2 linked regions of the Homo sapiens genome follow. The protein of the gene in region 2 interacts with the protein of the main gene of each other region in a pairwise test. Each region holds a gene or a part of one and is shown on either strand. Other genes may lie near its edges.

Region 1 (3,600 bases), on a different chromosome or scaffold from region 2:
CAAAATAAGATTTAGTTGTATTTTGTTTTCTCACAGCCACCACAAGACTGAACAAAATATTTTCTGTTTGGGCATTCTGAGGAAGCTGTATTACAGTTAACTGTTAATGCTGTGTGAGTTTAGAAAAAGTCTTGATAGTAAATCTAACTTTTAACACAGTTAGTGCATGAACTGAGTAGTTAAACATTTCCGTATTCAGACAGGAATAGTGGAAAAGGTATCTTAGGTGCGTTACTCAATCCAAATGTGACTGAATCATTACAGTGGACCCTCATGGTGCATTGAAAAGAAACTGTTTTATATCCAGGTTTCAGAGGACCTGGATAAATAAAAGCTTTGGATTTTGCATTCAGTGTAGTTAGTTGGATTTTGGGACCTTTGCCTCAATGTTAGCTACTGGGATTGGCATATGTGTTCACAGGCAGAGTAGTTGATCTCACACAACGAGTGCTCTCACAAAACTGGTGTAAGTTTCTTATGCTGATGAGCCCCCGCTTTTTTTTAATTTGGTGCCTACAACTTTGTTACAATGATTGTACTTGCTGGGCTATCAAGTTACAATGCTCTTGGTCTTTTTTGCTGCTGTTTCGCTATTTGTCCTTACACCTAGGCCAAGTACCAATGTTAGCTGTTGGAAGGGATTCTGTTTATTCATTCAACATGCAACTATCTAACTTTAGGGAATGGAAGGAAGTTCATTTTTAAGTTGTGTGTTGTCAGTAGGTGCAGTGTCTAGGGTAGCGAATCCTGTAAGTTCAAATTTATGATTAGGTGACAAATTGACATTGAGATTGTCCTTTTCCCTGATTAAAAAATGAATAAAGGCTTTTTAAAGAAACAAACAAACAAAAATATTGTGTCTAAGATTATCAGGCAGCACTAGAGGGTCAGACTGGGTCTGGGTAGAGTTGGTCACAGCCAGGCTGACTTACTGCTGTCACCTGTCAGATGAAGAAGAGCAGACAAGGGTTTTTCAGTTGAAGCCCAGAACCTCCCTGGCCCTCCCTACTCTAGCTCCTGGGAATATGACTGCACCATAGGATGGACAGGGGCCCTGAGTCGGGAGGAACTGCCTTCTTCTCATGGTTGGTTCATAAAAGCATGTGAATTGTGGCAGAATCTGTGAAGAGGGGTTTGCACTGAGACGACAATATCCAGTTAAAACATTGCACCTAATGAGCAGAGCTTATAGATTTGGGTTTTCCCTCCTTTTTTAGATTTTATTTTGTGACTTTCTCAATTCATAAAGAGATTGAAAGAACATTCACAATTTTCATTAGATTTTGATTCATCCTTCTGGTATTTCTGTATGCAAAAACAAGCATATGTATAGATGTGTGTTTTCTTGCTTCCCTTTCTCTCTTACAAAGAAAAAGTAGCATATGAACTTCTCCTCTCCATAGGCGTTGCCTCACTAGCAATGTAAGAGGGTACCTATTTTCTTATAACCTCACCAATGGAGTGCATTGTCAAGCTTTTGAAGAATTCTTGCCAATCTGATAAGTGAAAGCTTGATGGCATCTTAGTGCAGCTTTAATATATATATCTTTCATTATGAGGTTGAGCCTCTTTTCACGTTTTTAAGGGTCATTTTGTGTCTTTCTGAACTGTCATGTCTTTTTTCTTTTTTCTGTCAGGTTTTAAAGATCTCTTTACAAATTAGGGAGAGTAATACTTTAAGTTATCAGCTTTATTTGATTGAGGGTGGGTGGGTTTTTTTTTCTTTTTTTGACCATGCAGAAATTTTTCTTAATATAGCTGAATATATCAATATTTGTTTTCATTGCTTCTGGAAATTGTCATAGATAGGCTTTCTCATGCCCAAATTATAATGACTTTTGCCAGGATTTTCCTCTAGTACTTTTAAGATTGCATTATTTTCCATTTATGTTTCTGATATAGTTTGTGTTTGTTATGGTATATGGTATTAAATATGGCTCCAAATATATAATTTTATGTGACTATTCTGTTGTTGGCAGCCCTATTTATTAAAAGACCATCTTATCATCAGGAATGAGATACCACCTTAATGGTGGTGAAATGCCACCCTAATATTATACTAAATTTCCATATGTACTTGAATCTATTTGGAGACTTCCTCTTCTGTTCTTTGGTCTCTTTGTTCATGTGCTAGCACCACACTGCTCTGATTCTGTAGAGACTTTATGATATGTTTGAATACTAGGTAGGCTAGCACCCCTCATTGCTCACCTTACTGTATAATTTCTTAGCCATTTTTACATATTTTTTAATTCTATAAACCAAAGAATCAATTTGTTTAGCTTGAAACAAACTCATTCATATTTTTGAGGAGATTGTATTTAGTTTGTATTTTAAGTTGGGAAATTTGACATCTTTATGATACTGACTTGTCCTAGTCTAGAACGAGGGAAGCTTTTTTTTTTTTTTTTTTTTTTTTTAAGACAGAGTCTTGCTCTATCACTCAGGCTGGAATGCAGTGGTATGATCTAGGCCTACTGCAACCTCCACCTTCCAGGCTTAAGTGATTTTCATGTCCCACCCTCCCGAGTAGCTTGGACTACAGTTGTGCACAACCACAGCTGGCTAATTTTTGTATTTTTAGTAGAGACAGGGTTTCGCCATGTTGTTCAGGATGGTCTCGAACTCCTGGCCTCAAGTGATCCACTCACCTCAGCCTCCCAGAGTGCTGGGATTACAGGCGTGAGCCACTGCGCCTGGCCAGGGATGCTTTTTTATATAGTCAAGTCTACATTTGCATTTTTCAGCAGTGTTTTAAAGTCGTCCCCATTTTAGAGGGGCACACTTTTTTAGTGTTTTATTTTGGTGGCGTTGCTATTATAAATGGGGTTTTCTCTTACATGATAACTTCTAAGTGGTTACTGTAGGTATATGTGAAGGCTATTGATTTTGTATGTTAATTTTATATCCTGCTCTCCTAGTGAATTCCTTTATTCTTTAAGTCTGTTCTAACATTGATACTCTCAGATTTTCCAGGTATACACTAAAATGCTTGCAAATAAAGAGACTTTTTCTTTTCCAGTTATTGGGGCTCTAATTGTTCTTGCTTTCCAATTGCATTGGTTAACACCTTCAACATAATGTTAAGAGTGATTATTATAGTGAGCGTCCTTGCCTTATTTCTGACCTCAATTGAAATGTCTGTTGTGTTTCCACATTTTAAAAGTTGCTAGCTTTAGGACTTAGATGTAAATATTTTATATATTTTATCATTGATCATAACTCTCATCATCTAAAACATTGGGTTTCTTGTTGTTTTTGTTTAGCTTCCAGAAAAGCGTCCCACATTTCAGCAACTCCTGTCTTCCATTGAACCACTTCGGGAAAAAGACAAGCATTGAAGAAGAAATTAGGAGTGCTGATAAGAATGAATATAGATGCTGGCCAGCATTTTCATTCATTTTAAGGAAAGTAGCAAGGCATAATGTAATTTAGCTAGTTTTTAATAGTGTTCTCTGTATTGTCTATTATTTAGAAATGAACAAGGCAGGAAACAAAAGATTCCCTTGAAATTTAGATCAAATTAGTAATTTTGTTTATGCTGCTCCTGATATAACACTTTCCAGCCTATAGCAGAAGCACATTTTCAGACTGCAATAT
Region 2 (3,600 bases):
AATAAAGACTGTTAAAAGAACAAACAGGAAAGGAAGCAATAGAGTGAAAAGGCAACCTACAGAATGGGAGAAAATATTTGTAAATCATATATCCGATAAAGGGTTAATATCCAGAATATATAAATAACTCCTACAACTCAACAACAAAAACACAAATAACCAGATTAAAAAATGGGTAAAGGAGTTGAATAGTCATTTCTCCAAAGAAGATATATAAATGGCCAACAAGCCCATGAAAAGGTGTTCAGCATCACTAAATCATTAGAGAAATGCAAACCAAAACTTCAAGATATCACTTCACACTCACTGGGATGCTCACTGTCAAAAAGAAAGAAGCAACCAAACAGAAAAAGGAAATATTGACAAGGATGTGGAGAAATTGGAACTCTTGTGCACTGTGGGAATGTAAAATGGTGCAGCCACTATGAAAAACTATACGGAGGCTTCACAAAAACCTAAAAAGTAGAATTACCCTATTATCCAGTAATCCCATGTCTGGGTATGTATCCCAAAGCATTGAAAAGCAGGGTCTCTAAGAGATATTTGTACCACCATGTTCATTGCAGCAGCGTTCACAATGACCACGAGGTGGAAGCAACCAGCACGCCTGTTGAGAGATCAATGGTAAGAAAATGTGGTATATACATACAATGGCATATTATTCAGGCTTAAAAAAGAAGAGAATCCTGTTATGTGCTACAACATGTCTAAACCTTGAGGGTATTATTTTAAGTGAAATTAGTAACAAAAAGGCAAGTACTGTATGATTCCACCTACATAATGTATCTGAAGTAGTCAAGCTCATAGTAACAGAAAGTAGAACGATGGTAGCTGGGCATGATGGCTCACGCCTGTAATCCCAGCACTTTGGGAGGCCAAGGTGGGTGGATCTCCCGAGGTCAGGAAATCAAGATCAGCCCGGCCAACATGGTGAAAACCCGTCTCTATACAAAAATACAAAAATTAGCCGGGCGTGGTAGTGTGCACCTGTAATCTTAGCTACTTGGGAGGCTGAGGCACCAGCCTGGGCGACAGAGCAAGGCTGTTTCAAAAAGAAAGAAACAAAGAAGAAAGTAGAATGGTGGTTACCAAGGGACTGGAGTAGGGGTAAATGGGTATAAGGTTTCAGTTTTGCAAGATGAAAATGATCTAGAGGTCTGCCACCACTGAATTGTACAACTAAAAATGGTTAAGATGGTAGATTTTGTTACGTGTTTTTTCACCAATTAAAAAAAAATTTAATAAAAAAGGATAAAGAGGAGGGAAGCCTAATGTTATGCTCTTTATGCCCGAATTTGGCGAAATCGAGCCTTGCCCGCTGTTTTTTCCTATGACAGTGTCTGAACCTTTCTTTTTCCCAGGAGTAGGAATGGCCCCTGCTCCCGCGCAGCCTCCAGGCTGCACCACGCTCGCCCCGCCTCTCTCTCCGCTCCTTACTCCGCCCACCGCAGTTTCCTCCAATCGCGGCCCTCTCCCCGCCCCCTTACCCGAGCCTTTTTCCTGCATCCGGGCCTGAGAGTGCAGGCTTGAGGGAAGCATGGAGGTCCATGGCAAGCCCAAGGCTAGCCCGAGTTGTTCGTCGCCCACCCGGGATTCCTCAGGAGTCCCAGTGTCCAAGGAGCTGCTGACGGCGGGAAGCGACGGCCGCGGAGGTGACGGACGGGTGACGGCGGCATGGGCCGCACACGTGCGGCAGAGGAGGCGCGGCCGGTGCAGTTTGGGAGCCGGCCGGTGGCTCCCTGCCCGGGCTCCGTACCCTCGAGGGGAGCCCCGGGGACTGCTGCGGGGCTCCGGCGTGCCCTGCCCGCGGCAGGGGTGGGGGCTTTGGGGCGGGCACCCGGCTGCGGGCCCGGAATGGTTTCCCCAGCTAGTGGTTCTTATATTCTGCAAGGTAGTGAGCGCCCACCCTGCCAGGCGCCGCTGCCAGGCATCTGCCCTGCCCTGGAAGCTGGGAAGCTCTCGAGTTCTTTTGGGGAAGGGAGGGCTTTTGGTTTGGCTGCCTGGGTCGGAGCAGTTGGCTGATAGGGGGAAGCGGAGTAATATTATGCTAACAGTCCCTACCTCTTTCACACCCACACAGACCACCCCTTAGTGCTGCTGTCTTGTAGAGGGAGACATGCATCCAGGAAATCCACACAGCATTTCAGACACTATAGGTAGAATTTAAAAGCACGAGTTCGAATCCCAGCTCCACTAGTAATTAACTGGTGGGACTTAGAGTTATTTTCATTCCCTAAGCCTCAGTTTTTGCATTTGGAAAATGGTGATAGTAGTAATGCCTGTAGAATTTTTGTGAGGAGGAGAATGCCTAAAAAGGCTTGGGCATGTTGTCAGTAAATACTAGCTTGAAGAAAAGGTTTTGTGAGAACCCAGAGATTCCGAAGGAAGTATAATAATGATAACCAAAGCTTATGTAGTCCTTACTATGTATGCCCCAGAAACTAACTCATCTAATCCTCACAACAACCCTTTGCAGAAAATCTGTTATCTCTGTTTTATAGTTGAGGAACCTGAGACATGATTTATCATACAGGTAATTTACCTTCTGGAGATCATGTGGCTAGAAAGTAGCAAAACTGGGACTTGAATTCAAGTAGTCTGGCTCCAGACTCTGTGCTCTGATCACGAATCCAGTAGGCCTTAAGTAGTAGGCATTCAATGGATGTTTGTTGCGGCTCTGCTTTGCAGGTGAACAGGATTTGTTTTTTAACCAGAGAGTTAAGGGATTTTCCGGGTATTAGAAATAGGGTGTGCAAAGCCTTGAGTTTTGTACGTTCCCCTCTTGGAACTCTGATGGGATAGAGAGTTGGGATGATTTGAGTAGTGAGAAATGAGGCTGGAAAGGTAGAGTGGGTGACAAAATCCCCAAAAGGCTGCTTTCCTTGGGTTGAACGTCTTCAGGGAAGGGGAAATACCAGGCAAGCATGTTTTACTAATGAAGAAACAAATGCTTGAAGATCAGGTAAGTTGCCCAGTGTTACACAACTAGTAACCATTTCTGGCTTCACTTAACCATTGTTATGCTCTGTACTGTTTCCTCCGTTCTGTCATTGCAGACCCACGTTTGTCTGCTAATGAATTTCTGATCCAGAAAAGTGCAGATTGGTGTGCATTTATTACCTGCCATTGGTGATAGAGGTGAATGAGACAGATGTAAGAAAGGAGAGGTGGCTGGCTGTACATAAAGAATTAAAATGTTGTAATGGAGCTTGGAGTTCTCCTTTAAAAAAAAAATTTTGGGGGAGTGTGGACAGTCAAGTCTTAAGACTGGTCATGTGAGAGGCTTACTGATGGGCCTTTGTTTTTTTATGCTGTAGTAAATTAAGGGTGTTTGTGTGTCTGTATTTTCAGGTATATGGGACAGGTTGCTCATCAACTCCCAACCTAAGTCCAGAAAGACCTCCACTCTTCAAACAGTTCGGATAGAGAGGAGTCCCTGTAAGTACCTCTTCCCCTCTCTCACCCTCTCTAATGCTGAGTTTTGTCTGATTAAGCTGTGGGACGGTCTCTGCCTTCATTGTCAGGTATCAAACCACAGATAGTCCAGTGGAACAAGTCCTACTTGGGATTTACATGATAAAGTCAGTACACAGAATGGAA

The links. Proteins that work in one complex are often made in the same cells at the same time.
Region 1: the proteins of NOPCHAP1 (region 2) and BMX interact in a two-hybrid assay, tested with the Homo sapiens proteins (one large-scale study listed by BioGRID and IntAct).

What each region holds. Positions count from the first base shown.
Region 1 is NC_000023.11:15,552,807-15,556,406, forward strand, and holds part of BMX (cytoplasmic tyrosine-protein kinase BMX), read left to right. Parts: intron 1-3,266; coding exon 3,267-3,341; 3' UTR 3,342-3,600. UniProt on the Homo sapiens protein: Non-receptor tyrosine kinase that plays central but diverse modulatory roles in various signaling processes involved in the regulation of actin reorganization, cell migration, cell proliferation and survival, cell adhesion, and apoptosis.
Region 2 is NC_000012.12:104,984,816-104,988,415, forward strand, and holds the start of NOPCHAP1 (NOP protein chaperone 1), read left to right. Parts: upstream 1-1,500; 5' UTR 1,501-1,537; coding exon 1,538-1,652; intron 1,653-3,351; coding exon 3,352-3,438; intron 3,439-3,600. UniProt on the Homo sapiens protein: Client-loading PAQosome/R2TP complex cofactor that selects NOP58 to promote box C/D small nucleolar ribonucleoprotein (snoRNP) assembly. Acts as a bridge between NOP58 and the R2TP complex via RUVBL1:RUVBL2.